Homo sapiens: one gene and its partners. The gene in region 4 interacts genetically with the main gene of each other region. Each region holds a gene or a part of one and is shown on either strand. Other genes may lie near its edges. The genes, in order: RAB1A, EIPR1, ARMH3 and VPS54.

Region 1 (7,033 bases), 1.1 Mb from region 4:
GCTCACACCTGTAATCCCAGCACTTTGAGAGGCTCAGGCAGGGGGATCACTAGAGGTCAGGAGTTTGAGACCAGCCTGACCATCATCACGAAACCCTGTCTCTACTAAACGTACAAAAATTAGGCAGGCGTGGTGATGCACGCCTGTAGTCCCTACTACTCAGGTGGCTGAGTCATGAGGATTGCTTGGACCCCGGGAGACAGAGGTTGCAGTGAGCTGAGATCATGACACTGCACTCCAGCATGGGCAACAGAGCAACATCCTGCCTCAAAAAAAAAAAAAAAAAGAAGTACTGTTACATGGTACAACATGGATGAACCTTGAAAACATTCTGCTAAATGAAGGAAGACAGACACAGAGGGCCACATATTTTATGATTCCATTTATACGAAATGTCCAAAATTGGCAAATCTAAAGAGAAAGTAGATTAGTGGTTGCCAGGGAGTGAAGACGGGTTCTTTCTGGAGTGAAGAAAATGTCCTGGAATTCGTGGTTGTAGTTTGCAACCTTGTGAATGTATAAGGACCACTGAATTGTCCACTTCAAAAGGGTGACTTTTATGTTATGTGCATTATATCTAAAAAAAAAAATCATAATTAGGAAGCAAGATTGACTTCTAAGAAAAAGCGGAGTGAAATTGTTGTTTTGTGGTGAATAAATTGGGTGGGTGGGTCGCAAGAGTTTTGCTGATTAGTGATTAGAAAAATTATTCATAATCATTGAAAATATAAAATATTTTTCTATATGATGTATGTAAAGAATTTGGCAAGAGATGATGTTTGGAAAAAATAAAGAATGGCTATTGTAGAGATCTTAAGGAAAGAAACTACAGTTAAGTAGTGCTTTGTAATCAGAATATGAAGTAAGTACTGAAAGTGGATGGAGTGGCTGTTGTCAGCATGTTATACTTTATACATTTCATTCATAAATTTGGACTGTAGATAAAAGTAAACTTTTTTTTTATTTACTCTTGAACAACAGTTTTTTTTTTTCCACTTAGACTTGCATCTGCTCCACTGAACAATACATTTAATTGTTAATTATTTCCCCCTTCAGGATGATACATATACAGAAAGCTACATCAGCACAATTGGTGTGGATTTCAAAATAAGAACTATAGAGTTAGACGGGAAAACAATCAAGCTTCAAATAGTAAGTGACTTGGCTAGTAATTTTTTTGAAATTTATTTTGGTAAATTTGTAATGTATTGTTATTTTGTATATATTTACTATGCTAACAAAATTGAATGTAAAATGTCTTAAGATTCATGTACTTAAGATAGAATGGTAGAATAAGAATTACTTAGATTAAAAATAATATTTTCAAGATTACTTAAGCCTCATTGAATTTTCTATTCATGAAGCAGAGAAACTCATGTTTTAAGTCAAACTTGGTCCTCATCTTTTTCTTTTATCAGTGGAAATCTAAGTTCAAGTTTACCTTGTCCTACACTGCAAATGTTATAGACCATTTTTGTTTGTCTTTTACTGTGCTAAGTGCATGGAACATTAAAGGAACCCTAGGAAGAGATTCTTCATATGTGGCTCAGTTGAAGAGAAGTACTTATGTAGTTCTAAGTATTTTTATTAGATAGTGTGCACCAACTCTGTAGAAACACAGAATTTTGTTGGAAAAAGGAACTTAGTTTTTGTAACATGTTCATTTTACTGCTCAAAAAAACGAATGCTGAAAGATTTAATGACTTGCCTACAGTTACTGGTAGAACCAAGTGACCGAAGCTCTGTCTTCAATATTTTGTGTCTCTGTGCCATCCTATCCCCCTTATCCATCTTTACACCCCCAGCCCCCAATTAAATATAGGCAATTATAATAGTTCAGTTGTGCCTCTTCAGTATGGGTCTGAGTCCTGTCAGTGTGGGCATATCTGTGGTCTTTTAAAAAATAAATCTCTCAGTATTTTTCAGAGTAGGCTATTAGCAAGAAGTAGGCTATAAACACAGGAAACCAGTGACTGCCCCTTTTCATGGAACTGATGACACATGGAATTGGAAGGAGTCCTGCATTAGGAGTCAGAAGACTTAGATTTGTTGTCTTGGTTCTAGTATTTACCTGTTAGAGAATCATGGGTTTGTGTCTCTGGGGAAAAGGCCGAAGTAACCCTGAGACCCAGTTTCCTTTCTAAAATGTGTGTGATGACACCTGATTTACTAATTTATAAGCTAGTTGTGAGAACCAACTGTAATAGCTTTGTGTATGTGACAATACGTGTGAAAGCCCTTTGTAAACTTTTGGGCAGCATATAGATACTACTTATGATATGACATGCCCAGATAAATGGGTGTTTGATAGGTTAAGTTGCTCCCTTTTCTTACATGACTCTGATGAGGAAAAGAAGGTATGTTAACAAAAGATAGGTGGCTGTGGATATTGATATAAGTAAACACACTTGATGTGTCAAATTAGGACTTGCAAGGATTTAGTTTTCAGAAATAGCTTGAAATACTTTCAATCAGTGAACAAATTACCCTCCATATTTTTTCCCACGATATAAGTACAGTCTCAACCTTTTATTTGGCACCATAAAGAGCACATAAAGATCTACCCAAAACTGTACTTTAAAGCACTGGTATGGAATAATTGTATTATGTGTGATCATTGGTGTTTATAAGATTTGGGTGTGTATTCGTGTGTGAAACATTCATATTTTGTTACTTTCCTGTGGCTGGAAGGGATCTTATAGGACACTGTCTTTCATCTTTGTCTGTCTTTCATCTTTAATAGGAATTTCTTTTCCATGCCTGAAGGCCTCATTTTGAACATTTTGTTTGTTTGTTTTTTTATTTTTTGAGATACAGTATTGCTCTGTCTCCCAGGCTGGAGTGCAGTGGCGCGATTTGAGCTCACTGCAACCTCCGCCTCCTGGGTTCAAGTGATTCTCCTGCCTTAGCCTCCCTAATAGCTGGGATTATATGTGTGTACCACCATGCCCGGACAATTTTTTTTTTTTTGAGATGGAGCCTTGCTTTGTCGCCCAGGCTGGAGTGCAGTGGTGCAATCTTGGCTCGCTGCAGCCTCCGCCTCCCAGGTTCAAGCAGTTCTCTTGCCTCAGCCTCCTGAGTAGCTGGGATTACAGGCGTGCGCCACCACACCCTGCTAATTTTTTGTATTTTTAGTAGAGACAGAGTTTCACCATGTTGGTTAGGCTGGTCTCGAACTCCTGACCTCGTGATCTGCCTGACTCGGCTTCCCAAAGTGCTGGGATTACAGGCATGAGCCACTGTGCCCAGCCTTCCGATAATTTTTGTATTTTTCGTAGAGATGGGATTTCGCCATGTTGGCCAGGCTGGTCTCAAACTCCTTACCTCAAGTGATCCACCCGTCTTGGCCTCCCAAAGTGCTGGGATTACAGGCGTGAGCCACCACGCCTGGGTTTTTGAACATTTTTAAGAAGCTTACCATTTTTTCGAAATAGCTAGTTCCATTTTACACATAACTTCAGCTAGGCATGTTGCCTCATGCCTGTAATCCCAGCACTTTGGGAGGCCGAGGTCAGAGAGTCACTTGAGGCCAGGAGTCAACATAGCTCCTGTGACCAGCCTGGTCAACATAGAGACTCTATCTCTACCAAAAAAAAAAAAAAAAAAGTAACCAGGTGTGGTGGTCCATGCCTGTAGTCCTAGCTCCCCAGGAGACTGAGGTGGGAGGAATGTTTGAGCCCAGGACTTCAAGGCTGCAGTGAGGCAAGATTGCACCATTGCACCCCAGCTTTGGGGACAGAGTGAGAGACCCTGTCTCAAAAACAAAATAAGGCTGGGCGCAGTGGCTGTCCGGGCGTCGTGGTTCACGCTTATAGTCCTAGCACTTTGGGAGGCCAAGGTGGGCAGATTGCCTGAGCTCAGGAGGTCTAAGACCAGCCTGAGCAACATGGCGAAACCTCATCTTTGCAAAACATACAGAAAAAAACAAAAAAAACCACAAAACCTCTAGTTGCCAGTTATTTTTTTTATTTATTCCTAGTGATTCTTCTTTTTTTCTTTTTTCTGAGACAAAAATTTCACTTTGTCTCCCTCGCTAGAGTGCAGCGGTCAGCTCACTACATGATTCTTTTAGAGACATGTTAATTCTTTATATTGAGCTGAAGCCTGTTTCTTTTACTTCTGTCTCTTCTTATTCCTCCGCCTTGTAGAGCTGCCTGAATCAGATTAATTCCTCTTTTATTGGCAAGCCTGCCCTTCAGATTGATCTTATCACAACCTTTCTTCTACCTCTGAAGTCCTCATTCTTTCCTGTAATGATATTTTCAGAACCTTGTGCAATTTGGGTTATTCTTACATTTTATAAATGCCTTTTATTAAATTTGATTTCTTAAATCAAGTATGAGATATAACACATGAGGTAAATCCTGTCTTGATTTGGAGCCTGAATGAATTTCTCTCTTGAACTTCAAGGGCTCATGGCCCTTTCTTATTATTAATCAAAGACAACCATTTGTTGTTTCAGTAGCTATATTATTTCTAGTTTGGGTCTTAAGGTTTTTGATTTGCTTGTTTTTTCTTTTTTCTTTTTTTTTTTTTTTGAGACGGAGTTTCGCTCTTGTTGCCCAGACTGGAGTGCAATGGCGTGATCTCGGCTCACTGCAACCTCCGCCTCCCAGGTTCAAGCGATTCTTCTGCCTCAGCCTCCCTAGTAGCAGGGATTACAGGCATGTGCCACCACGCCGGGCTAATTTTGTATTTTTAGTAGAGATGGGGTTTCTCCATGTTGGTCACGCTGGTCTCGAACTCCCGACCTCAGGTGATCCGCCTGCCTTGGCCTCCCAAAGTGCTGGGATTACAGTCGTGAGCCACGGCGCCTGGCCGATTTGCTTGTTTTTAATTAAAATAGGGGCCTTGGCCAGGTGCAGTTGTTCACCCCTGTAATCCCAGTACTTTGGGAGGCTGAGGCAGGCAGATCTCTTGAGTTCAGGAGTTCAAGACCAGTATGGGCAACATGGTGAAACCCTGTCTCTACCAAAAACACAAAATTCAGCCAGGCATGGTGGTGTGTCCCTGTAGTTCAAGGTACTCAGGAGGCTGAGGTGGGAGGATTGCTTGAGCCCGGAGATGGAGGTTGCGGTGAGCCAAGATTGTGCCATTTGCACTCTAGCCTGGGCAACAGAGCGAGACCTTGTTTCAAAAAAAAAAAAGAAGAGGGTCTCACTTTACACTTCTGTGACTGGTGTTTTAAAAATCTAAACACAGGCCGGGCACGGTGGCTCACGCCTGTAATCCCAGCACTTTGGGAGGCAGAGGCACGCAGATCACAAGGTCAGGAGTTCGTGACCAGCCTGGCCAGCATGGTGAAGCCCATCTCTACTAAAAATACAAAAAAATTAGCTGGGCATGGTGGCAGGTGCCTGTAATCCCAGCTACTTGGGAGGCTGAGACAGGGGAATCACTTGAACCCAGGAGGCGGAGATTGCAGTGAGCCAAGATTGCGCCATTGCACTCCAGCCTGGTGACAGAGCGAGACTCCGTCTGAAAAAAAAAAAAAAAAATCTAAACACAAGATTTTACTTTTAATCCTATCATTTCCTCTTGCTTGGCTTCAGTAATCCTTCAAGTTTTCTAGGTCTTTTCAAAATCTTGATTCTGTTGATTTATATTTTAATTATCTTTTCCTTTCAGCTTTTCCTGTTCAGGTGTGACATCTGGGTCTTTATCTGAGTTTTATTAGATTATAAAACATTCAGCAAGATAGGGCAGGTACTGAGTCCAGTTGTACACCATGGAAGGCCTCTTTCTGTGATTGTTCATTCATGAGGCTTTATGAAAATGTCTACATTACACCAGGCACTTGGAGGTTACAGAGATGAATAAAACATAGTCCATTAGGAGGCAGACAATGGGAGAGACAAACATGGGAAAAAGTTACTCTGATTATGAGGAGTAATGAGAATTACATATGAAGGAAAGTATTGTTAGTACTGTTAGGATTTAGTGTCAGGAAAGTTTTCAGAGTAGCAAGGAAACATCAGAAATTTTACTCTTTCTGCCAGGCATGGTGCATGTATTATTCTGTTCTCACACTGCCACAAGGAACTGACCAAAACTGGGTGATTTATTAAAAAAAAGGTTTAATTGACTCATAGTTCTGCATGGCTGAGGAGGCCTCAGGAAACTTACTGTGGCAGAAAGGGAAGCAGGCACGTCTTACATGGCAGGAGGCGAGAGAGTGTGAAGGAAGTGAAGGGGGAAGAGCCCCTTATGAGACCATCAGATCTTGTGAGAATTCATTCACTATCACTTGAATGGGGGAAACCGTCGTCATAATCCAATCACTTCTCCATAATCCAATCACTTCCCTCAGTGATTACAACTTGAGATGAGATTTGGGTGGGGACACAGAGCCAAACCATATCAGTGCCTGTAGTCCCAGTTACTTGGAGGCTGAGGCAGGAGGAACACTTGAGCCCAGGAGTTCAAGATCTGCCTGGGCAACATAGCAATACCTCCATTTTGGATAAAAAGGAAATTTTACTTTTTGGGTGCCATTGCTTACTTTAATCAGCTGTAACTTCTTGTTGACTTTTAGTCAAAAAACAATTTTTCCTTCTATCTTTGTGAAAGAGGTTGGTGAGCAAGGAAGAAAAGGAAACTTGCTTTATTGAGCAGCTTCTATAGTCAGGCACATTTTACAAACATTAGTTCATTTAAACCCCTTTAGCTGTTGTACAAGGTGAATGCTATCTAGCATTTACAGATGAAGAAACTGTTAGGTGACTCTCCCTAATATTAAATAACCAGGAACCTGGATTTGATGTTTTGAAGTCAGGGTAGCTTGATCCTCGAGTTCATGCTTCCTCCAAGGATACACTGAAAGACTTTGAGCCTCTTTTTTTTTTTTTCTCTTTTTTTGAGACAGGATCTGGCTCTCTTGCCCAGAGTGCAGTGGTGTGATCTCAGCTCACTGCAACCTCTGCCTCCTGGGCTCAAGCGATTCTGCCTCAGCCTCTCGAGTAGCTGGGACCACAGGCGCACGCCAGCATACTTGGCTAATTTTTGGATTTTTAGTAGAGACAGGGTTTCACCA
Region 2 (4,382 bases), about 61 Mb from region 4:
GATAAGCCTTCTCCTCCTGTAGGTTTCAGCCAACATTTAGTCTTCCCTGTCTGTCTCTTGGGACTTAAGAGAAACCTGCAGTAAACCCAACCTCAGCGGAAAACTGCCTTATGTCAGGCCCTGTGACTGGGGGCCGATTGCCTGGCAGTGCCTAACGTGAGCCCCAGCCTAGTGGGGCCCTCAGAGCCGGTGTGATCCATTGTTGGTGTTGCCTGCGGGTGACAGTTCATTTCAGCAGCTGCCTTGCCCTTTGCAGGGTGTGGAACGTCCGCTACAACCACTCTCATGACCAGCTGGTCCTCACGGGCAGCAGTGACAGCAGAGTCATCCTTTCCAACATGGTGTCCATCTCGTCGGAGCCCTTCGGCCACTTGGTAGACGACGATGACATCAGTGACCAGGAGGACCACCGTTCTGAAGAGAAGTAAGGGCACGCACTGCAGAGTGGCTCACGCTGTACCAGAGCCTCCTGTCTGCACAGCCATCTCCCGAGCCAGGCTGTGTATGTAGAAAGTTTCCAGGAGTGCATTTGGGGGACACTCTCCTTACCCACTGCAGCTGTGGGGACTCACAGTTCCAGGGGTGCCGTCATTAGCAGCCCAGGTGGGAGGCACTGCAGGTGCGTTAGGGTTAGGTGCGGTTTTAAAATAGATCTATTTGTGTTTGTATTCTTATTGAATGCCATCTGTAAGATTTAAAAGACTCACTGGTCTTCAAACTTGAGCATGAATAATAATAGAACGAATATATCCCAATCCTCACAGCACTCCCTGTAAGAGACGCATCACAGTCAGTGTCTTCACTGGCGTGGATTTGAGCGTGTTGGGGTCGGGTTGTTGGCCATCAGCTCACGGGCCTTCCACTGGCTGGTAGCAGGGCGGAGACTCCAGGCCAACCTTCCCAGTCTCAAACCCGGGTCCTACTTCACTTCTAGATACTCTACAAAATGTGGTCAACCATGATGTGGGTTTTCTAGTCACACCATCATGGTTCTGGATTTTCCCAAAGCTTTTTCCTATGCACCTTGATTTCTGATCCTAGGTGAGATGGGAGATCGCTAAGGGCAGCCTCTTCATGCCCGCCTCTGGTCAGCGGTGCAGTGCCAGGGCCCCTGTGTCCTTGAGCAGTCCACCTTTAGAAGTGGCAGCCGCTTCCTGGGGGGTGACTAGATGCAATTCAGTTGCAACCGCAGAGATTCTTGCCCCAGGTTCCAGAGGAAGGAGGTTCTGGAATAAAACCTTGTGAAGTTGGACAGAGCCCTTAGATACGATGGGGTCTGTCACTCTGTTTTGGGATCCTTTGCACTGTTTTTTGTCTGAATTCTCCCCCTACCCACCTGAGCTTGGTCTAAAATTCCTCTGTGAGAAGACCTCTTTCTTCAGACCCTCTCTGCAGTGGCGATGGGACCATCTGATTGTCTCTGTCTTCGGACCCTCTCTGCAGTGGGGATGGGCCCATCTGATTGTCTCTGTCTTCAGACCCTCTCTGCAGTGGCGATGGGCCCATCTGATTGTCTCTGTCTTCGGACCCTCTCTGCAGTGGCGATGGGCCCATCTGATTGTCTCTGTCTTCAGACCCTCTCTGCAGTGGCGATGGGCCCATCTGATTGTCTCTGTCTTCAGACCCTCTCTGCAGTGGCGATGGGCCCATCTGATTGTCTCTGTCTTTGGACCCTTTCTGCAGTGGCGATGGGCCCATCTGTTTGTCTCTTGACTCTGTTGCCTTTGTTTTGTTTTTGAGACAAACAAAAACAAACAAAAAAGTCACCCAAGCTGGTGTGCAGTGGCACGATCATGGCTCACTGCAGCCTTGACCTCCTGGGCTCAGGTGATCCTCTCACCTCAGCCTCTCAAGTAGCTGAGACAACAGGCCCATGGCACCATGTCTGGCTAACTTTTTGTAGAGACAGAGTTTTGCCATGTTGCCCAAGCTGGTCTCAAACTCCTGAGCTCAAGTGATCTGCCCACTTCAGCCTCCCAAAGTGCTAGGATTACAGGCATGAGCCAGACTCTGTTGTTTTTCTGTTCAAACCTTAGAAACTCGGTCTGCCATAGAATAGTATTTAAGCACACGCACGGTAGCATCTGCCCAGTGGTCTCTCGGTGCCTGTGGGCCTGGCTCCCTTTACCGTCCTCTCTGCCAGTGGCCCAGGGAGTCTGCACTTCCTCACCATGTCTGTCCCTGTTAGGGGAGGAGCCTGATGGGCCCGTTGGTCGGAAGACTGCTGGCGTTGTCTTCTGGGCGGCAATGTCATGGGAGCAAGATAGGAAGGGAGGAGGTGATCGGGGCTACGCAGACTTCTTAGGACATCCCTCAGTCCTGATGTCCTGCTGCATTCAGGAAACCATGATTCCTCCTAAGGATTTGCACCTGGCATTTGTCCCACAACAGCAGTTGACCACTGGCAGGTCCACTTTGTGGGAAGCCAGCTTCCCAGAGACCATGCGAGTTCTGGAGGGTCCGTCTTGCTGGGGGGGTGAAGCATTTTCCTACAAAGAAATGCAAAAGCAGTTAGAATGCGGTACACAAATTATGTGGGAATTTTTTTGTGAAATGGGAAGTAAAGTGCCAGAGAAGCCTGTGTCCACCGGAAAGTGGCCGCTGTGAGCCGGGCAGGGCCCCCTCCCCATGCACGCTGTGCTGAGGAAGTGGTGCTTCTTGTGTGAGGATCCCCTGGTCAGGGCTCCCAGTGAGGGTAACTCACAGTCAAGGGAGGCGAGGTGGGAAACACCCTGGGGGAGGCCAGGCAGGTCACGCCTCTGCTGCTCCCACAGGGCCAGGGCGTCTTCCTCTTGGTGTCCTGGGGGATCCTCAGCCCAGCCCCACTCCCATCCTAGCAAGGCTCCTTGTGCCCCAGCCTCTGACTCCTACACAGCCAGGAGCTGGACCCGCTGCTTCCCAGGGTCCTTTCTGCTCAAGCAATAGGGGCGTTTACATCCTGTGTTACCCAGACACGGTGACTACTTCCCCCAGTCTTTCCCCTGAGCTAAAGGAAGCCCTTGGAAGACCTCCAACAAAATATCAACCCAGGCACCCGGGGGCCAAGGACAGAAGAAACCAAGACACCATGTGCCAATGTCGCCGATTTCCATAAACCTTTTGAGAAATGCCCACTCCTCACAGTGACAGTGAGGGTTTCTGGGCTTCTGCAGGGACCACCCCACCGTCCTCGGTGTGGGCTCCTCTAATTCTTCCCATCCCACAGCGGAGAAAGCTGAGGCCCCAGTACCTCCCGTGTCTCCCGATGTCAGCGCTCGCGTCCTCCCTGCCCCTCTCCTGCCCGCCCCGCCGGAGCTGCTGCGCTCACGTCTGCCTCTGTTGCATTGCAGGAGCAAGGAGCCCCTGCAGGACAACGTGATCGCCACCTACGAGGAGCACGAGGACAGCGTCTATGCCGTGGACTGGTCCTCGGCTGACCCGTGGCTGTTTGCCTCCCTGAGCTATGACGGGAGGCTCGTGATCAACAGGGTGCCCAGGGCCCTGAAGTACCACATCCTGCTATGACTCCCGGGCCTGGGTTATCCAGGTCCCATTGAGTGGTTTTCCTCTTGGCAGATTCTCAAACAGTCGCAGCTCTTTGGAGGTGACTCGTGTTCCAGGTGGATCCCTCTCTGGGAGAGCCGCTGTTCCCTTCCTGTAGCAGCAGCATTTATGAATGGGGTGAATGGGGCTATTGTCGACGGCACAGCTAATGCCCGAACCCAGCCCCTGTCGGCAGAGACAGAGCCCCACATTATTATGTGAATAACAATGTTTTCTGTTTTAAGGGTGTCAGGAGTTTCGCTTTTTAAAAAAATGTCTGTTCCTGCAATAGTAACTCTTCTTTCTCTTGAGAGTAAAAAATGAAATAAAATAAATCCACGCTGCACAGGTGCTCGGCTCATTCTTTCAGGAGCTCTGCCCTGTGACCCCATCTCCTGGGTCTTTGTCCATTTTCTCTTTCCTGACCCAGGGAAAATGCAGATGGACAGACGTGTGCTGTCTACGCCGCCCTAGCATGGAACTCCCGGGAGCCATGCTGGCTGCTGGTGGGCACCTGGCTCGCGCCCTGGGCTGAGCTGGTGTGATGCATTTTCACTGCTGTAGACGCAGGCTCTGCCCGCCCTGGGCCTCCCCTGGTCTCTGCAGCCCATCCTGTGCTGTGTCCTGCCCACCTTGTGAGCCGGGCAGGGCCTCCTCCCCACGCGCACGCACTGGTGGCCTTGGAGGTGCCGTCCTCCCTCACCTCGGAGCTTGGGGTTGGGCTCCCGCGTCTCAGTTGTCGGGGACCCCTCACAGGCTCCTACACTCATCAGTGCTTATCCTTAGGAATCCTCAAACACTGACCTCGCAGCCTCTGTTCGTGGTTCCTTTGGGTGTGCGGGGTCTGTTCTCTGTGTCTG
Region 3 (7,033 bases), on a different chromosome or scaffold from region 4:
ATGTCAAGTCTGAGCTGAGAACAAATGTTATAGCTAAACTGCCGGCTTTTAAAAATATGGCTCTGGTGACATACCTTTAAATATAAGTGGGCTACTGAACACCACTATAATTAAGATCTAAAAATTAAAAACAAGGTTGTAATACTTAGGAACCCTACAGAAGGAAATGAGTTAGGAGACAGGGAAAAGAACAAATAGAACAGAGACAGAATAAAATCCCTCACAAATTAAAATCTTCTTCCTAAGGAAGAGTCATTCCTTGATCTTTGGCTTCATAATTCTTCCCAGCAGCTTTTGTCAAGGGAGACAGTCATTTGAAAGTGGGCTGACTTGATCTTCCCACTAGAAAAAATAAAAGCTCACTGGTTGTAGGTAAGTAAGCACAAATCCTACCATTGCATAATCAAGTGTGTGGGTGGAAGTGTTCACAATGAACAGTTTGAAAGGCAGTTCTCTGAAGCATCCAAACCCCAACATCACATGGAACTCATATATATATATATGGCTTTTGATATCCATGGTAACCAGGCAGGGTTCATTCTTAAAGAGAAAGTACTGTATTTCCATTGGGTTATTCTGTGGCCTGAATAAACAGAGACAAGTAGGCAATCCTTACTACTTGCTCCTTCTCAGTAAGATATTTTGGGGCTGGGCATGGTGGCTCATGGGTGTAATCCCAGCACTTTGGGAGCCCGAGGCAGGCGGATCACCTGAGGTCAGGAGTTCGGGACCAGCCTGGCCAATACAGTGAAACCCCATCTCTACTAAAAATACAAAAATTGGCCAGGCGTGGTGGCTCACGCCTGTAATCCCAGCACTTTGGGAGGCCGAGGCAGGCGGATCACGAGGTCAGGAGATCGAGATCATCCTGGCTAACACTGTGAAACCCCATCTCTACTAAAAATACAAAAAATTAGCCGGGCATGGTGGCACACACCTGTAGTCCCAGGGAGGCTGAGGCAGGAGAATCACTTGAACCTGGGAGGTGGAGGTTGCGGTGAGCTGAGATCGCACCCCTGCACTCCAGCCTAGGCAACAGTGCGAGACTCCGTCTCAAAAACAAATAAATAAATAAAAATAAACATACAAAAATTAGCCGGGCATTGTGGTACATGCCTGTAATCTCAGCTACTCAGAAGGCTGAGGCATGAGAATCGCCTGAATCTGGGAGGCAGAGGTTGCAGTGAGCCGAGATCACACTACCACACTCTAGCCTAAATGACAGCAAGACTCTGTCTCAAAAAAAAAAAAAAAAAAAAAAAGATATTTTGGGATTTGGCTTTCAATTCTAAACAGATCCAATTTGCTACCATATATATAACTAACAATGGCACCTCCCTGTCATAGTTCTGTACTGTTTATACTGCCTGGAAATGTTACTGCCACGGGTGGTATATGAAAACTTAAAGGAGAGAAAGAATAAAGAAGGTCATTTCACGTACAAACAGTGGGGAGGCAAAAAGAAAGTATCAAAGTTGGATTGTCTGTACTTCTTTACCAAAACAAGGTCAATCTTTGAGCTACAACATCAAATATTAACATAGATTGTTTTTAGGTTACAATATTCCACCAAACACACTCAGCCTATAATAGACCTCAAAATTTTTGGCAAAAATTCATAATTTCTTTTCTGTTGCCTTTTTCTTAGGTTCCAGCCATAAGATTTATGAAGGGGAAATTTTCACCGTTGTTGTCTTGAGGGAGATAAATCTTACGTATCCACCAAACTCCCAATTATAATACACTCAAAGCCTGTCCTTTCCAACTGGGAGTGGCTGATAGACACATAACAGTGAGTGAGTGCCAGGTTCACATTCTCATTCATTTATTCAACAAATATTTATTAAGCAAGTACCATGCTGGGCACTATGCTAGGCATTTAGTAGTAAACAAAATAGACAAGATCCTGCTTACATGTTTGGGTTCTCAGTCTCTACTCTCACTAATCTTAGGCAAACTGCTTCATTTCTCTGGCCTTAATTCCCTCATTGATCAAATGGTAACATCAGATAACATTACTATTTTACATTCATTTCAGTGCTTTATAATCACAAGGTGACATTTTTCACAAAATATCTCATCTGAGCCTCACAAGGACTCTGAGAGTGTGGCAGGACAGGCATTACTGACCTTGCAGGTCTAGCACTCCATGCCTCTACAACTACTCCCTGAGGAGGAAAAGCTAGAGTTATGTAAGCTTCTTTTACAGAGAAAATCACTGGACTGTCTTTTTCCAAAGTTTTCTTTGGAAATTTAGGAGGCCTGAAGGATAGTACTACAGACCAATTTAGTGGGAAAAATTAACAACTACGTAGGTTCTTTGTTGAACACAGCTATGCTCACTCTGAGAGATCTAAGATCATATTAACCAAGAAAAACAAAGTGGTGGTGGGCTCACCATCAGAGGAAGGCGGTGTGGTCCCAAGTGGTGTGACTGGGGTTGTAGGAGCAGGACTGACAGGGGTCGTCACCAAGCCCATTTCTGGATGGCTCTGAAAAAGATACACAGATGTGTAAGAAAACAGAAAATCCAGTTCTCCCTGAGTATCAAGTGCCTAATACCAATAAGGACTGGTATTCTGGACCTTATAATTTTTTTTTTTTGAGACAGCATCTTGCTATGTTGTCCAAGCTGGTCTCGAAATCCTAGGCTCAAGCACTCTCCTGCCTCAGCCTCCTGTGTACGTAGGACTACAGATGCATGCCACTGTGCCCCTAGTCTCATAATTAGAAAGCTCACTGAGGCTGGGCACAGTGGATCACACCCATAATCCCAGCACTTAGGGAGGCCTGGGCAGATCACAAGGTCAGGAGATCGAGACCATCCTGGCCAACACGGTGAAACCCCGTCTCTACTAAAATACAAAAAATTAGCCAGGCATGGTGGTGCATGCCTGTAGTCCCAACTACTTGGAAGGCTGAGGCAGGAGAATCACTTGAACCCAGGAGGCGGAGGTTGCAGTGAGGTGATATCACGCCACTGCACTCCAGCCTGGTGACACAGCAAGACTCTATCTCAAAAAAAAAAAAAAAAAAAGAAAAAAAAAGCTGAGAAGGGACTACTTCTGTATTTCGTTCTCATGAGTACTTGATTACGACTGATGCTTGCTAATCTCTAATAAGCTCTGTGTGCTAATTTATCTTAAGCAACTAGGTTCCCATTACATAAGTTTTTCTGTGGCACCACAGACATTTAAAAAAAAAAAAAAAAACTGGGGTCAACAAATATACAGGATTATTCTACAAGAGAGCAGAGAACATTTGCAATCCCATCCAGACCTGGGATCTCATCAGATCAACCTAAAACACATCAATAGGCTGTTCTGATAACCAAATAATTGACTAGCAGATGTAGATGAGTCAAGGGGATACCAGGTACTATAAAAAGAGCTATTCAGCCGGGTGCGGTGGCTCACACCAGTAATCCCAGCACTTTTGGGAGGCCGAGGCAGATGGACCACGAGGTCAGGGGATCAAGACCATCCTGGCTAACACAGTGAAACTCTGTCTCTACTAAAAAAAAAAAAAAAAAAAAAAAAAAATTAGCCAGGTGTGGTGGCAGGCACCTGTAGTCCCAGCTACTCGGGAGGCTGAGGCAGGAGAATGGCGTGAACCCGGGAGGCAGAGCTTGCAGTGAGCAGAGATCGTGCCACTGCACTCCAGCCTGGGTGACAGAGCGAGACACCATCTCCAAAAAAAAAAAAAAAAAAAAAAAGCAAAAGAGCTATTCAGATGGCGGCCTTCCTGTTCCACAACAAACAAAAGTGTGTGTGCCTTCATTGGGAGGCAAAGACATGGTGAGACACCCAGTAGGGACCAAAACAGATGACTCTTCTGTCCCTAACCTTTCTTAGCCATCCCTCCCACATCAGCTCTTGAGAATTAAGCTGAGTGATAGCTGTTTTTAACTTCCCTTTTCTTCCCTAACAGCTTTACCAGCACTTTACCTTCCTCACCTCTTCCTTTACAATCAGTTATAGGATTTGGAGAGCAGATAAGAAACGAGTGAAAATAATAACTAAAGTCTCTATGTTATCAGTCATGAAAACTCTTAAGTGTTCTATGAAGCAGATCTCAAACCAGCATGATGCTTTTTAAGCATGACCTTATTTTTGTGTTAAAATTCAAATCAATAGATTCCATATACATCTACCCTTTGAGAAAAAGCATAAGCAAACTTTCCCTTAAAATAACCCTACATACATATTTTAAACAGTCTGGCTTTAAGATAATAACACTTTATCAATTTTTTAAAATGGCTTTCATGGACAGCTCTTGAGTTCTTGGTCTACTTTAGTCCTCTTCTATGCCAATTACTGTGGCTATCCCTCAGGCATGTGACCCATCGCTCAGTATTCTGGGGGTATTTTTGTTTGTTTTTTTATTTTGTTTTATTTTGTTATGTTTTGTTTTTATTTTATTTTTTTTTGAGACAGAGTCTCACTCTGTCACCCAGGCTGGAGTGCAATGGCGCGACTTCGGCTCACTGCAAGCTCTGCCTCCTGGGTTCACGTCATTCTCCTGCCTCAGCCTCCCAAGTAGCTGGGACTACAGGCGTCCGCCACCACGCCCAGCTATTTTTTTTTTAATTTTTTTTTTATTTTTAGAAGAGACAGGGTTTCACCGTGTTAGCCAGGATGGTCTTGATCTCCTGACCTTGTGATCCGCCCACCTCAGCCTCCCAAAGTGCTGGGATTACAGGCGTGAGCCACAGCGCAGGGCCCAGCGCTCAGTATTCTATGACTTCCTTTCAATGTATGTAAACCACGTTATCTGTTAACAGCTAACCTTAACCTGGCCAGGATATTTTTTACTTTTTTCCTCTGGAAATTGGTGAGATAATAAGGTGAGTGGCTTGGCCTATTTTATCTCCAGTTGTAATTCCACAGTGGTGTGGAAAGCAGAAAGCCCAATATAAAAATCCACATAGCGGATAATACCAGGGATTTCTAGTGAGCAAAATGAAGTCATGACAATTCATTTGGGTTAACAGGATCAATAAATTGGCCAAAAAAACTAACTTTGCACGTTATTAGACCCATTTCAGCACCAATGGAAACATACATATTTGAGGACAGCAGGAAACAAAGGCAACTGATTCAACTCCTTGTTACTACCACTTACCAATGCAAAGCAGGGTTTAAACAAGTACAGCCAGATAGGCTTTTCAATGGAATTAATCGGTATGAAATTTAGAGAGAAAAAAACACTGGGATTTTTAATGTGACCAACCTGAGCTAATACTGTGATGAAGTTGCGATTTAAATGAACAGCTTCATAAAGTGCCAGAAGAATGGCCTCATTGGTTCTAAAGAAAAAGAGAACAAATTGGAGCAGTTTTTATAGTGGGGGGAGTTAAAACAGTATAACCATGAAGATAAGATTGGATTGCACCCCAGCGCCTCATTATCAATTCCTTTGCATTTCTAAAGTTCCCCTTTACTTGCCATTTGGGCGTATGCAAAAGTGTATAGGCAGGAGTCAGGGCCTTCACTTTAATTCCTTAGGACCAGTTCTCATCTACTTCATTATCTTCCCTCTGTTTTTCCACCTCAACCCAGTTAAGTCCTCAACTGGCTCAGACACCCATCCCTCTTTTGTTTCATTGCAGAGATAGTCTGGCAACAGTTGTTCAGCTTATTGTCGCTCAATACATATGAAAAGCAGAAATTTCTAAGGGTCCATTAATGTTCAAAACCCATGAAACATTTGAAAATCACCAAAAAAGTATGATTCTGTAAAAGATTAGCAAGAGGTAACACTGCACACTCTCATATCCAGCAGGACAGCCCACACTAAAGTCCAAGTCACTGCACAAGAATGTCAGGCACTTACTGTACTGAGATTTTCTCATGGGCATCTGCTATGAACATGCTGCCCACCTGTGGAAGAAAAGGGGAATTGCAAACTTATAGCAGGAGGATATGAGAGGAGCTTTATGCCTAGGAAGCCTTTTATCAGTGAAGAAAACAAGCTGCTTCCACCTGGGGAGAACTTGGAACTCTAGGCCATAAGTCACACACACCAAAACCAGCCCACTTTGAAAATCTTAAAAGACTCATAAGTAATAAATGAAATAATGAGAATCCTACTAAATCATCTTGCCTAGTAAATCATCTTGCCTACTAAATCACCTCGCTTTAAAGAAAAAGCCTAGTACTTTTGTCCAACTCTCCTTTTCAGTGTGTAAGTTTAGTCCCTCTGACAGTTAACCTACACATCTTCATCACTCTGTATCTTTCCTAGAAGTTGCTTATTTGAAGTCAGAAACTAACTTAGGAAAAACTTCACAGGAAGCAGGCTGACTTCAACCAACATAAAGCTATCTTTGGGAACAATATTCAGGTTTCAGACCAAAGCTGTCTATATGAGATCCACTCTCCATTTTTCAGATAACAAAATCTTTAGTTTGTGTCCTAGTCAGAGCAAGTGAATAAGTAAATGGAGTAGGCTGCCTCTAATGTGTATGATATCAGAAGCACTAAGATGCCTACACCCACTAAAAAATACCTCTTCCACCTCCTTAATTATGCTTGAAACTATACACAAACCTATGCTCCTAGAGCTTCATGTGTTTGGTACAAAACTTTCTGAAAACTTGACTGAAAGGCAGAGATATCTGGGAGCAGTATAATTGTATCTAATTCATTTCATCAAACACCAGTACAAAACTCATACTTCTCTAGCCCCTGAGAGACTTCACTCATTTACATTTTGGAGTTAAAGAGTTTATCAGGCCCCTTCCTGAGAACAGGCTGAGAAGGCAGAAGGAACAATTCGTAAGCAGTGGAGGAAAAAGAATTGCAGAAGTGGAGGAGGAGAGGGGGCAACTACTTCTTGCAACTAACCAAAAAATTGTCTTGCCCTAGAGCTGAATACTTGGATAATAATGCCCGAAAGACAGACTTTCTGAATCTGCCTAGATTCTAGAATCTCCTAGATTTATCTCTTCAAAATCAGTCCCAGATTATCTGGTACCAAATGCCAAGAAACCTTGCCCTGGAGTCTTGCCAGCTGGACCAATAACTTCCCT
Region 4 (7,476 bases):
AAAATAAATGCTGCCAACAACCTGAAGGAGACTGGAAGCAGATTCTTCCTCAGTCAAGCTTTCAGATGACAATACAGGCTGATGGATGCTTTGATTGCAGCCTTGTGAAACCTTAAGCAAAGTTAAGTTGTGCTGAGACTCCTGACTCAAGAAACCATGACATAATAAACGTGTGTTGCTTTAAATTGCTAAATTGGCGATAATTTGTACATACCAATAGAAAACTAATATACCATAGTATCTTGGTTTTTCCCTATGCTTGGGGTGCAGTAAATTCTTAGTAGATTACAGCTGCTATTATTATAATAATCAAAATGGAAATCTGAAATATCGAGGTCAAGAAAAAAGTTAACAGAGAAATTTAACAGAGTTAAATAATTGCTTCCAAAGTAACCAAGCGGCTGGTGTAGAAGACAAAAAGATGATATGTTGAAGACTTGTATATTACTCCCAACAAGTATTGAGTACATTATCATCACCACATAAAATATTATAAATTTTCTAGTGGTGCTTATATCTACATTTAGCTTTAATATCTTACACCATACTCAAAGTAAACTGGAAAGTTTTCCTACATTAAGATAGTCCTATATTACCTATGAAGAAATATCAAAACACAGTTTCAGGTTAGAGTCATATTGTTATAAATTATCATTTATATTTTTATATACTATATATTAGCTGTATCAAAAATTGTAAAATTTTTTAAATTATAAAAACACATATAATTATATATTTATATATATAACATTTAAGAATAGCTCAAATATGATGCATAAAATAATTCAGGACATTATTGGATCCAAACCCTAATGAAACAATTACCAGCTTGACACCTTCAGTTCATTAGTGCATGTAAATCTTGCTTATCAAAGATAGCTTATTTATACTAAACACACAATATAATTACACATATTTAGCTGTAGAGTAGGTTAAGAATGTGGATGGGTTTCCATTGCATAGATTCAAGGTTTGCTATCACAGAAAAAAGAAGCTAGTGCTTCTATCTTACTAAATTGGAAAATTATTTTTCTCATTGTTCATTCTATCAGTGCCCCCTTTCCCCTCTGTATTTATATAGCACGGGAATGTATAGTTTCTATCAAATAAATCATTAGAAAGGCAATGTTCAGGCCGGACATGGTGGCTCACGCCTGTAATCCCAGCACTTGGGGAGGCCGAGGCGGGCAGATCGTGAGGTCAGGAGATCACGACCATCCTGGCTAACACGGTGAAACCCCGTCTCTACTAAAAATACAAAAAATTAGCCAGGCGTGGAGGCGGGCGCCTGTAGTCCCAGCTATATTGGGAGGCTGAGGCAGGAGAATGGTATGAACCTGGGAGGTGGAGCTTGCAGTGAGTCGAGATCGTGCCACTGCACTCTAGCCTGGGTGACAGAGCAAGACTCCATCTCAAAAAAAAAAAAAAGAAAGGCAGTGTTCAGTGATTGAGTAGCTATGTTAACCTTACTACTGCCACCTATACAAATATGCACAGAATACACAGTAAACATAAACATAGCCCTTTTATAGGTGTTATGGCATTAGAAAATTTGCCATTCTCCCTCTAATTAGAACATATAACCTTGATGGACTATCACTTTTCATGTGATTGGTCGGTAACAGATATAATAAATATGCCAAATACAGTGTTAGTGACATGGTAGCTAAATATTTTCTTCCTGATTCCTTTTTTTGAAGGCAATGATGGAATCTTAACTCCTATCCATTTCTTAATTTTGTATTAATTTCTTAATTTTCTATCATCTGTGCTTTCTGGAAATGTACACTAATAATATATCTATACCTATTTATTTGTGATTTGGCTTTTAGCTCTCATACTGACTGAAATGATTCAAGTGATAGCAAGTGAACATAGTAATTAATTTGAAATTTATCTAGGTTTAAATGAAATTGCTTGCCCAGTTTACACACTTTAAAAAAATTTTTGCAAACCTGATCATCAGCATTTACTTTCCTGTTTAGATTCAAGATTATGAATTGTTCTGTGGAAAAGTAAAAGTAAAAGTAAACATTGAGCTGGATCTCTGAAAGAACTAAGCACGACACTCAATGTGTATTTTCTTCCTATGGTATGTTATCAACAGATGGATAATGAGGAAGCAAACCAGACTGTCTTGTTCTAGTGTCTGGGAGACAACTGACGGCTATCATTTAGTCCAAGTGCCAAGTTGGAATCTTTTCTGGAACAAGGTGGGGTATAAACACAAATATTTTTTTAAAGGCCAAACCAGCCAGGCTTAAGGAAGTTTTTGAACTGTTGTTGACTTCCTGAGGGGGGTCAAAATATAAGAATTTGCTAAATCCAATTCCTAGCATAATCTATGAACTGATTCTAGACATAAAGAAAAATTATTTTCCTTTCTGGCCTTAGATAAAACTTGGTTAATCCTCTTGTTAATATTTTCACAGTATAAACACATCTTTTTTAATAAAAAATTTTTAAACTGACAAATAATAATTATATATATTTATAGGATCCAATGTGATGTTTTGATATATGTACACACTGTGGAATAACTAAACCAAGCTAATTAACATATCTTTCACCTCACCTACTTTTTTTTTTTTTTTTAAGAGATGGTGTCTGGCTATGTTGTCCAGGCTGGACTCAAACTGCTAGTTTCAAGGCATCCTTCCACTTCAGCTGAGACTACAAGTGTGGGCCACTGTACCCAGCTTATTTTTTTTATGGTGAGAACATTTAAAATGTACTCTTGGCTGGGCGTGGTGGCTCATGCCTGTAATCCCAGCACTTTGGGAGGCTGAGGCAGGTGGATCACGAGGTCAAGAGTTTGGAGACCAGCCTGGCAAATATGGTGAAACCCCGTCTCTACTAAAAATACAAAAATTAGCTGGGCGTGGTGGTGCGCGCCTGTAGTCCCAGCGGCTCGGGAGGCTGAGGCAGGAGAATTGCTTCAACCTGGGAGGCAGAGGTTGCAGTGAGCCAAGATCATGCCACTGCACTCTGGCCTGGGCAACAGAGCCAGACACAGTCTCAACAAAACAAAACAAAGAAAGTACTCTTTTAGCTATTCTGGAATATTAAATACATTGTTATTAACTGTGGTCATCGTGCTGTGCAATAGATCACTAAAATTTATTCCTCCTACCTGAAACTTTATACCCTTTGACTCACATTTCCCCTTTCCTCATCACCCTTTACCCCCCAGTCTTTGGTAACCACCATTCTACTCTGCTTCTATGTAAACTCATCTGGTTTTATAAGTGATCAGGGATTTAAGAGGACTTCACTCTTTTACAGTTAAATTTATTTCATATTGGGGAATGATTTTCTCACTTTGTTTCTTACATAATTTTAGAGGATTGAACTTAGAAAAATATAATGTAAGAGTTTTCTCTCAACTATTTTTGATGCTTCCTTACTTTTTGTCCTCTTTCCCCAACTTTAGCTCTTTGGTGGGGAAAATATTATTTCATAAAAGTTATGTTTGCAGTTTTCAAAGTGACTTCTTAGAAGTGAAACTTGGATCAACATTTTTTTCAACCCCCCAACTATAAGAGTTACATTTTCACTTTTGATTTGTTAAAACATACTATGTCTTATAAATGCTTGAAATTTATTTTTAGGCAAGAATTTCAACATTGAATAAAATCTTCCCAAAATTAAGTCACAAGCACTCAAAGGATTGAGGATCTTTTTCTTCCTAAAATATATGTGTGTGTGTGTGTGTGTGTGTGTCTTTATATTTATATACTAAGACCTTCCCTTTCTTGTGGACTGTGTTTTATTGGTTTAAAGTTGCAAGTCCTGTGAAACCAGGCTGAAGTCAGAATTAGAAGGTATTAATTATCATACACACTCCAAGTATCTCAGTCAAGTAACAGGAATAACTGATTACAGTGTCTGGGAGGAAGGCCTGGAACTTGGGGAAGACTTGGAGGGGAGGACTGGATGGGGAAAAGGCCTCAATAGAGAGAACTGGGTTGTTGCGGAGGGGTGACCTTTAACCTTTGGAAGGGCATTTACTAGGGAACAGCTGAAAAGCATTTACTTCGAGGGGGTGGGGGAGAGGAGGAATCTCGTGGAAGTATTTGCTTTAATAGGTCCCGGGTGATTTAGGGATGTTTCGAGTCGGTTGGTCTTGGGGGTGGCGAGGGCTACGCTGGAGGGGTCGCGTCCCAGTCCCGGGGAAGGCGGCAGGAGGTTTTCTGGGTGTTCCTGAAAACTGGGAGTTGGGGGGAAGGGTGGTGGGGAAAGTGGAATTCAGCGTGGATTTGTCTGCGTGTAGGACTATTAGAGGAGGCGCAGGGGAGCCACGCGGTGTATTCCCCGCCCCGAGAGAACTCTGGCTGCGCCTGCGACGGGCACGCCGGCCTGCGCCAAGGCCGCTTTCCCCAGGCGGCGGGCGCTCCCCCCGGCCCGGGCCGCGGCCCTCCCGCCCCGGCGGAGCCGCGCGGTGGATTGTGGGCTGGGGGCTGCGGCGGCCTCCGGCGCTGTCTCCCCGCACCCGACCGGGCCGAGCCGGCTGGGCCGGCGGGGTGAGGGAAAGCAGTGGAGTCGGGAGCAGAAGCGCTAGAGGCAGTGGTCGTGGCGCGGCGGCGGCGGCTCCCCTGGAGGCCGGGGATGTGGGAGAGGCGGTGGCAGCAGCGGCGGAGGCGGCGCTGCGGACCCGGGGGAAACTGCTGGCTGACAGGACACCCGGGAGAGACGTGAGGGAGCCGCCGCTGCCACCTCTCACCCCTGAGTGAAGCTGGGCTCGAGAGGGCGGCCCTGTGCTCCCCGGGCCGACTGGCCAGCGGGCGCGGGGCGGGGGCGGGAACCCGGGCTCGGGCCCGGCCGGGCGCCGGGCGGCGGCGGCCGTGGAGCAGCAGCCTCGGTGCGACGTGGAGGGCTGGAGGCGGCGGCGATGCACTAGGCCTCGCTCAGGGCGGCTGCCCCGGGACCCGCAGGTAGGTGTGCCCCGCGGCCCCCCGCGCGTCTCAGCCCACTCTCACCCCGACCTACAGCGGAGAGAGGGACCGAGACCCCACCCCCTCGGCTCTCCTCCCCAGCCCCAAACGGACCGAGTTTCGGTCACAGCTGACCGGCACTGAAGCTTCCATGCTCCTCTCCGCCACTTCCTTTTTTTTTTTTTTTTTTCCTTTTCACTCTCCCTCCGGGATCGGGGCTGGCAGCTGTGTTCCCTGCCTCCTGTCAGCGACCGCAAACGCCGCTCTTGCCCCTCTCTTATCTTTCCGGGATCCCAGCTCTGGAACTTCCATCACCCCCTTAGACGCTGCCCCCAAACTTTCCTTTTCTTTTTCCAGCCAGGCCCTTAGTCCTATTGGATTCTACTGGAATCGTTAAAACATTTGTTTGTTTTTCTCTCCGGGGAAGGCTAACCCAAAGAGTTACTCAGTATTTTGCATTTTGGCAATGTAGCTTGAAATAATTTGTGCAATAATTTTCTTCAGTTCTGCCTCCTTCCATCTCTGCATAGACAGAAAGGGCAGGCCCTCTCTGCCGTTTCTGCTCTCCCGTCGTTGACTTGGGAACTTTGGCTTGCCAATTATAATTAGCCGTTTGGTCTGTTCATGTGTTGAGTTCAAGATGGTATTTTTAGCATTTTGACTGACAGGCGTTTCAAAAAAAAATTTTTTTCTTCTAACCAGCTTTATTTTTTGGTCTTTATTGAGGCTCTTTCGAAGAATTAAATTGTTTGGACTGTTTTTGTTTTTAATTGGCTGTATTTCTGATTTGTCAAATCAAGGGCGGTCTTAATACTAAACGCCTTTAAGTAATACCGTGATAAATTACTTGTAGTATACCGAGAAATATTACTGCGATAACCTAAACTGCAGATTTTGATGTACATTCACTTTTATAAATCCGAAGGGGAGTTCTAATTGGAAAAAGCACCTTCAGAGCCTAAATGATTTCTAAGCAGTTAAATGATGGAACAGAGGGAATGATGGGATTTGTTTGACTGTATTTGTAGTGTAGTCAGAATCGGATTTCCTAGAAATGGATGTTGATGGTTCGTAGTGCTCATCATTGCTTATGATAGGTTACCAGTAGCTGTAATTGATAGTTGTTTGGGACGACAGTAGATGTTTGCGATTTTATTGTAATTTGGCTATTTTTAAATTATGTTCTGATAACTTAAGAATTATTACACTACCAATCTAAGAGGCAGTCTGAGGATCACTTTTTTAAATAAATGAAAAATGTTTTAATGGGTTTTTAAAATAAAGAATGCATCACAACCAAATCGTAAAGACTGTTTTGTTGTTGATATTCGTATATTTTGTTCTTGTAGAAGTATTGTTACTACAGCATTTGGCTTTCTGAAGTGTTTTTGAAATTAGAATTTAATACTAAAAGTTTACTAGGAAAAGGTGATTACTTTTGCATATGCTTATATTTTCTGGAAAGTTAAAATTGATTTCTGGATAAGATAATTTTTTGTGTCAGAATTAAAGTCAATTCCTATATAGCCCATGAAACGGCAAATTTTGCAGAATTTCTTCATCACACTCTTTTTTTTTGTTTCTTTTCTTTTTTTTTTTTTGAGACGGGGTCTTGCTCTGTTGCCCAGGCTGGAGTGCAGTGGCGCTATCTTGGCTCACCGCAACCTCCGCCTACCGGCTTCAAGTGATTCTTCTGCCTCAGTCTCCTGAGTAGCTGGGACTACAGGCGCCCCCACGCCTGGCTGATTTTTGTATTTTTAGTAGAGACGGGGGTTTCACCATATTAGCCAGGCTGGTCTTGAACTCCTGACCTTGTGATCCACCGGCCTCGGCCTCCCAGAGTGCTGGGATTAGAGGTGTGAGCCACCGCCCCGGCCCCGGCCCATCACACTCTTTTTTTTTTTTTTTTTTTTTTTAATCAACAAAAGTTAATTACAATTCCTCTTTCCTGCTCTTTGCTTTTTAAAAACTGCTTTATTGAGATAAAATTAACATACCATAAAATACACCCATTTAAGGTGTACCACTTGGCCGGGTTCAGTGGCTCACACCTGTAATCCCACCACTTTGGGAAGCCTAGTCAGGTAGATCACCTGAGGTCCAGAGTTCGAGACCAGCCTAGCCAACATGGTGAAACCCCGTCTGTACTAAAAATATATAAATTAGCCGGGCATGGGGGTGAGCGCCTGTCATCCCAGCTACTGGGGAGGCTGAGGCTGGCGAATCGCTTGAACCTGGGAGGTGGAGGTTGCAGTGAGCCAAGATAGCACCACTGCACTACAGGCTGGGTGACAGAACGAGACTCCATCTCAAAAAAAAAAAAAAAATATACAATTCAGTGGTTTTTAGATTAAATAATTGTGCAACCATCACCATAATCTAATTTTAGAACATTTTCATCATTCCCTCAAAAAACCTTTATCCATTAACAGTTACTCCCCATTCTCTTCACCCCACCCCCAGCTTTAGGCAACCACTAGTCTACTTTCTGTCTCAATATTGGCCTAATGTGGGCCTTTCATATAATGCTTCTTGGCTCATA

The links.
Region 1: changes in VPS54 (region 4) and RAB1A are lethal when combined (synthetic lethality), as found in Homo sapiens cells (one study listed by BioGRID).
Region 2: changes in VPS54 (region 4) and EIPR1 are lethal when combined (synthetic lethality), as found in Homo sapiens cells (one study listed by BioGRID).
Region 3: changes in VPS54 (region 4) and ARMH3 are lethal when combined (synthetic lethality), as found in Homo sapiens cells (one study listed by BioGRID).

The regions. Positions count from the first base shown.
Region 1 is NC_000002.12:65,092,090-65,099,122, reverse strand, and holds part of RAB1A (ras-related protein Rab-1A), read left to right. Parts: intron 1-1,056; coding exon 1,057-1,152; intron 1,153-7,033. UniProt on the Homo sapiens protein: The small GTPases Rab are key regulators of intracellular membrane trafficking, from the formation of transport vesicles to their fusion with membranes.
Region 2 is NC_000002.12:3,188,456-3,192,837, reverse strand, and holds the end of EIPR1 (EARP and GARP complex-interacting protein 1), read left to right. Parts: intron 1-256; coding exon 257-424; intron 425-3,329; coding exon 3,330-3,504; 3' UTR 3,505-3,868; downstream 3,869-4,382. UniProt on the Homo sapiens protein: Acts as a component of endosomal retrieval machinery that is involved in protein transport from early endosomes to either recycling endosomes or the trans-Golgi network.
Region 3 is NC_000010.11:102,004,142-102,011,174, forward strand, and holds part of ARMH3 (armadillo-like helical domain-containing protein 3), read right to left. Parts: intron 5,883-7,033; coding exon 5,836-5,882; intron 5,309-5,835; coding exon 5,233-5,308; intron 2,493-5,232; coding exon 2,399-2,492; intron 343-2,398; exon of another isoform or gene 225-342; intron 1-224. UniProt on the Homo sapiens protein: Involved in GBF1 recruitment, Golgi maintenance and protein secretion.
Region 4 is NC_000002.12:64,016,396-64,023,871, reverse strand, and holds the start of VPS54 (vacuolar protein sorting-associated protein 54), read left to right. Parts: upstream 1-4,443; 5' UTR 4,444-4,934; intron 4,935-7,476. UniProt on the Homo sapiens protein: Acts as a component of the GARP complex that is involved in retrograde transport from early and late endosomes to the trans-Golgi network (TGN).